2 separate regions of the Homo sapiens genome follow, and region 2 is linked to region 1. The links come from fine-mapping of genetic effects on plasma protein levels. A gene starts in region 1. The other region holds a variant in brackets. All regions are shown on one strand. Distances are from middle to middle. Region 1 holds the start of NCS1 (neuronal calcium sensor 1). Region 2 overlaps NCS1 (neuronal calcium sensor 1).

Region 1 (2,898 bases):
CCCAAGCCAGCAAGTCCATCCCCATCTGAAGACTTCCTGGGGCCTGGGGCTCAGCCTGGGCAGGGGCTTCAGGGGAAAGCAGGAGTGGATGGAGTATGCTTAGAGGCAGGAGAGATATTTGGGAGCTGGAAGGCACTCGGCCCTGCTCAGGGTTCCTCTGAGCTTTCTGGACCCTCCGAGGTTAGAACACTGTGGAAAGAAGGGAGAAAGAGACCCCACTCCTGCCTCATCCCTGCTAGCCCCGGGGAGGGCTGCCTCATCCTCCCCGCTCTCTCCCCTACCCCAGGGCCCCAGCACCGGGTGTCATTCTTTCCTCCGTCCTTCGCTCATTCACAGAGATTTGCTGGGTAACACCTCAGGCGGCCTTCTGGGTTATGGAGATGCCTCTGCCCTCTGGGAGGGTGTTCTCCCATGGAAGAGACAAACAGGATGCAGAAAACATAGGTGACGTTTGTGATGGATGTGAAGGAGAGAAACTAAAGCCGAAAAGGATAGGAGAGTTCTCAAGATATGATGATATGTTGGATGAGGTGGACCGGGAAGGCCATGCTGGACCTACCACCTGAACCACACCCCCCTACGCGAATCCACTGGCCTCTGTCCATTCAGGTGGAGCCTGTCACCCCAGCCTCGGCTCAGAGAAACAGCTCTGAGCAGCTCTGACCTGTCACTCCAGCAGCTCTGACCCATCACTCTCTGCTGAAGTCCTTTCATGGGCGCTGGTGGGCAGGGGCCCAGCTCCTCGGCGAGGGGCCTCTCCTGGCCTGCCCCGTGGGCCCTGCCCTTCTCCCAGGTCCCCTGTGCCTGCAGCCGTGCGCAAGCCCGCAAGCCGGGGAACTCTCCCTCGGGCATGCAGGCCTCCCCGCCTCTCCAGGTTGCCTGGGCCAGAACGCTTCTCCATCCACCTCCCTTCCTGACCCTGGGTTTGGAGGTCTCCTGCCCCCAGGCCGAGAGTAGGTGCTCCCACCGCTACCTGCCGCATCCCGCACAGCCCCCTGCCCGCCCTGCGAGGGCTGGGGCACTCCTGTCCCGTGGGCCGCCGTGTCCCCGGCACCCCATGAATCCGTGTCGAATGAATGAATGTCTCCGGGCCGGGACCTGGCCTCATTCACATCCGATCTTCCGGGCCCTCCCCGCCGCGGCGGGGGCCGGAGCGCCAGGGCTGGATTCGGGGAGGGGGTGGCGGGGGTGGCTGCCCCGCCCTGGGGCCGCGTTGAGCCGAGGGGACGCCCCTCCGGCTGGCTGGCGAGGCCGGGGTCCAGCTGGCGGAGGCCGCGGCCAGGCGGGTGCGGGGCGGGAGGTGGCGCCGGGCGCTGAGTGGCGGCTCCGGGTCCACCCCTGGCGCGCGGGTGCGGGCGGGAGGGGGGAGGCGGGAGGCGGGGAGCGCAGGGGCGGCGGCAGGCGGGAGGCAGCAGCGAGCATGTGCCGCGGAGCCCAGTAACCAGGGACGACCGCGGCCACACCGCGCCGGCGCCGGCGCCCAGCCCAGGCAGCCCCGCGCCGCGGCGCCCGGACCGCCCGGGCCTGCCCAGCGGCCGCCCCACGCCCCGGGCGCCCCGGCGCCGACAGCCGCGCAGCGCAGCGCGGGCGCCGCAGACAAAGGCGCGGCCCCGGCCCGGCCCGCCCGGCCCAGCCGCTCCTGCTGGGCGCCCCAACCGGGTCCGGCCCGGGGGGGCGGGGGCCGCGGCCGCCGAGGATGGGGAAATCCAACAGCAAGTTGAAGCCCGAAGTTGTGGAGGAGCTGACCAGGAAGACCTACTGTGAGTGCTCCCAGCCCCCAGCCCGCGCCCCGCGGTCACCCCCACACCCACCGCCCCCGCCCCCGCCCCCCGGACCCGCGCGCTACCCGCTCCGCGCTGCCGCCTCCGCTCCGTCCTCCCCGCCCGGCCTCCAATGTGGACCCCTCGGAGGTTCCCGGGCCGCGCCCCTGCCCCCCGCCCGGCCCCATTGTTCTGGCACCCCCAGCCCGGGGAGTGCGCGCCGGTCGGCGTGCGCGGCGCCACCCCTAGGTCCGGAGGGGCAGCCCCAGCCCCCTGGCGGCCCCCTCTCCGCAGAGCTGTCCCAACGGGCAGGGGCTGTTGCCAGGGTGGGGCGGTGGTCCCGGGAGGGGGCGCCCGGCTGCGCGGAGCCGACTGGCACGAGCGCGCGGGGCTGGTGATTCATGCATCACGATGCCGCCGCCGCCGCTGCTGCGAGATTGGCCTGTCGCCCCCTCCCTGGCCCCGTTCGTGTGGGGGGGGGGGTGGCGAGACTTGGCACAGCGCTCGTCGTGCGGTGACGGCGGTGAAGGGTCCCCGGCACCCTGTGGGTTGCAGCACTTACAGGCTGGATTCTCCCTGGCCCCATCTCTGTCTGCCACACCGGGAAGTGGGTTTCTACAGCCCGGGTCATCTGGGCCGCGTGTGATCATTAGCTGTCGCGGGCTGCCCGGAGGAGGATGGCCTGTCCTTTCTGGGCGTCTCCAGATCAGCCTCAGTGTGTCTCCCTCCACTTGCCTAACTTCACAACTCTGCAGTCCCCTTGCAGTCCTAGTTTCTCCATACCAGGCTTCCCCCTTCCCTGCAGCCTCTCCGGAGGTGCCCTGGCATACCAGGGGTTAATGGTAATGGGTCCAGACCACCCAGGGGATTGCCAGAGGGAAGGCTTCAGCATCGGGGTCTGGAAGGACCTCTGCCTGGGTGTTTGACTTGGAAGGGGACAGTGGTTCTGGGCTTGGGTTGGAATTCAGAACCCATCCCCGGGCAGCTGCGTGGGCCCAGGCCCTCTGCACCACCCCTGGAGGCAGCAGCTTGACCGCCAGCCCCATGTGTTGATGGAGGCTGGGGAGGCAGCTCCTGGTGGTGCATTGCACAACCTCTGCTCCCCGCTTCCCCCCACTCCATCGGCCTTCTGGGCACG
Region 2 (2,898 bases), 61 kb after region 1:
TAATTTTTGTATTTTTGGTAGAGACCGGGTTTCACTGTGTTGGCCAAGCTGGTCTTGAACTCCTGGCCTCAAGCGATCCTCCTGCCTTGGCCTCCCAAAGTGCTAGATTTACAGGTTTGACCCACCACTCCTGGCCCTCCCTGTGGCTTTGATGTGTGTTTCCCTAATGACTAGGGATGTTGGGCATCTTTTCATGTGTTTATCGACTGTTCTATGTGTTGTTTTTAATGGTTTGTAAACTGTTTTATCCTGTGGGTGTGTCCTAATGTATCCCACCACTCCTCTGATACTGGACACTTAGATTGTTTTCTCTGCTTCCATTTTTGTTTTCTGTTTTCTGCTATTACAGATGGTGCAGTGGTAAACATTTATTTATTAAGGATAAATATAGGCTGGGCACGGTGGCTCACGCCTGTAATCCCAGCACTTTGGGAGGCCGAGGCGGGTCTATCATGAGGTCAGGAGTTCGAGACCAGCCTGGCCAAGATGGTGAAACCCTGTCTCTACTAAAAAATGCAAAAAGAAATTAGCCAGGCATGGTGGCGGGCGCCTGTAATCCCAGCTACTTGGGAGGCTGAGGCAGGAGAATCGCTTGAACCCAAGAGGTGGAGGTTGCAGTGAGCCGAGATTATGCCACTGCACTGCAGCCCAGGTGACAGAGCAAGACTCCAACTCAAAAAAAAGCAAACAAAAAAAAACCAAAAAACCCAAAGGGTGCCTCAGAGGTTATGCACATTTTTAGGACTTCTGACATAGAATGCCAGCTTGCCATCTATCGACCTTCCTGCCAGCTCTCTGTGCCTATCCTCCGTGGCCAGACCTTAACCCCTATCCGCTGTGGCTGGATCTTAACCCATCTTGCCTCCTTGTGTCTTCCAGATGCCTGGGAACCACTCACCTCCTTCTGTGCCATGAGGCCACCTCAGCCCTGACACCAACCCCGTGCGTCCACCCAGCCTTCTTCCGCATCCACACACAGCCGGCTGCCCTTGACCCGGGAGGCCCCGGCTCTCCTCTCCCCTGTCCTGCACCCATCCCCCGCCTGAAGCCACCGGCTCCAATTGCCAGCAACCTCTGCTTGTCCGGAAAACGACAACACGAAATGGAAAAGGCTACAGCCCTCTGCATAAACCAAGGACTTGGCTGCCTCGCAGGCAGCCTCCGTTCCTCCCGCTCTCTTGCGCGTGTGCTTTTGTTTTTTATTTTGAACAGACGTTTTAAAAGAAAAAAAAACAACTACCTTCTGTCCTAGAAGACACAGACTGACAGATGGGGTGAAGGCCTGGGGACCTCAGAGAACTCTGCCTTGCCCTCGTCCCTCGTCCTTCGGCAGCCGGAGAGGCTGTGGGTGGGCCGAGGGTGTCTAGGGGTTCTGCCT[G/A]GTCAACGTTATTTGTCGTCCCATCTTTTGGCAGCAAAACCACCTGCGTGGCTAGGATGATTAATTATGAGGATGATGATTTTTTTTGTGATAACAGTATTGTGCTTTTTGTGGGGAAAGTGAGGTTTTTTTTTATATACATATATAATTGATATCTTTAATTTATTGGTTGTTAACTGTTGCTGCTGCCTGGTGTGTCCTCAGCTCCCAGGGCTGCGGGCCCACCGTTTACATGTGCACGCCCTGACCCACCTGCCCACGCCGACTTGGGAGGATGGTGGCCTGCAGCGGCCAAGAAGCCAAAAAAAATTTTTTTTTTTTCAGATACTGTGCTTGATTTTTGGAGAGGGGAGAGGTGGAAATTCCTAAATGGCTAATGCACTGTTCCCTCCAGCCCGAATGCCTCCTGCCAAACCCCTTTTCCCTGCTGCCTCTGTCCCCGCATCCTTGTTCTCCCCTGGGTCCGTAACATTTTTTCCGAGGATGAACAGGGGACATCTTTAGGTTTCTCAACTCTTGCTTTGGTGTTTGCCGCAGCATGGAAAACAGGGCGCCTAAGGCTGGGAGCTGGAAGAAGGGGCATTGGGTACCCAGGCAGAGTCAGGAGAGGTGGTCTTTGAAGTAAGTTAGCAGAAATCAAGGGGACCCCCGCCTCCTTGGGCTGGGGAGGGGATTTCAAGATAGTTCATGACTCTCTCCCGCTCTGCCTTCCCTCCTTCCTATCTGCTTTTTCCAGTAAACTGCATGGTGTCCTTCCCTGGCCTTCTCTTGGCTCAAAGGCTGGGAGGGAGGGAAGGAGAGAAGAGTTCCAGGCAATCCCATCAATATAGTCCCTACACCTGGGGCTGCGGCCCACATGTCTTCACGGAGGCTTCCAGCGGTGCCTGCCACTGAGGCAGGTGCGGCCCCAGGACCATCACCAGGAATGCGAGGCCACCCTGGACCAGAGGTAGGAGCCCAAGGTCCGGCCCTTGCTCTTTGATTGTGGGCAGCCTCCTGCCCTCTCTGGGTCTCAGTTGCCCCATCTGCAGAGCGAGGAGGCCCGGGCTGGTTGGTCTTGAAGGCCCTTTTCCATGCCGACATCATGTCACTCTAGGCCTGGGGTTCAGTTTCCTGTGGCTGGTGATGCTGTGGTTAAGTTTGCTTGACCCCAGCAGCCCGAGGGACTGTCTGAGTCACAGCACAGCCCCTATTGCGTGGCTGCTGGTGTGTGGGGTCAGTTCCAGCAGATGAATGTGTCATGTGGCACACCTTGTCCCTTCCCGCAGCATTTCCTGGTTCCCCCCAGACCCTTGAGCGCTCTTTGGGACCCAGAAGGAGTCCTTGCACAGGGAAGGCTTGAGGTGAGAAGCCGCTTCCCAGACTGTCAGGGCCAGGCCTGGGTCTAGAATTCTTGCTGCTGCTTTGCAGAGTCAACAGCCCATCAGCCCATGTTTTAGAGGGGACACTTTGGTCCTCGGTTCCCACCCTCAGCAAGCAGGCCTCCAGCCCGAGGAAGGCCTCTGCCGTAGTGACGTTGC

The links. PIP is the chance, under the fine-mapping model, that this variant and not a neighbour inherited with it causes the effect. The UK Biobank Pharma Proteomics Project read protein levels with antibody pairs (Olink). The fine-mapping took linkage between variants from a reference panel, not from the people measured, so its PIPs are less certain.
Region 2: its variant is fine-mapped to the plasma level of the NCS1 protein (UK Biobank, PIP above 0.99).

The regions. Positions count from the first base shown.
Region 1 is chr9:130,170,968-130,173,865 of GRCh38, forward strand. It overlaps NCS1 (neuronal calcium sensor 1), which reads left to right and starts at 1,437. Exons shown (of 8, transcript NM_014286.4): 1 at 1,437-1,760. The coding sequence starts at 1,697. RefSeq lists enhancers at 551-1,339, 2,801-2,898 and a silencer at 1,414-1,503.
Region 2 is chr9:130,232,111-130,235,008 of GRCh38, forward strand. It overlaps NCS1 (neuronal calcium sensor 1), which reads left to right. Exons shown (of 8, transcript NM_014286.4): 8 at 880-2,898. Among named protein-coding and RNA genes, the nearest start is that of MIR12126, 7.8 kb to the right of the region's middle. The variant G/A (reference allele first, on the strand shown) is at 1,379.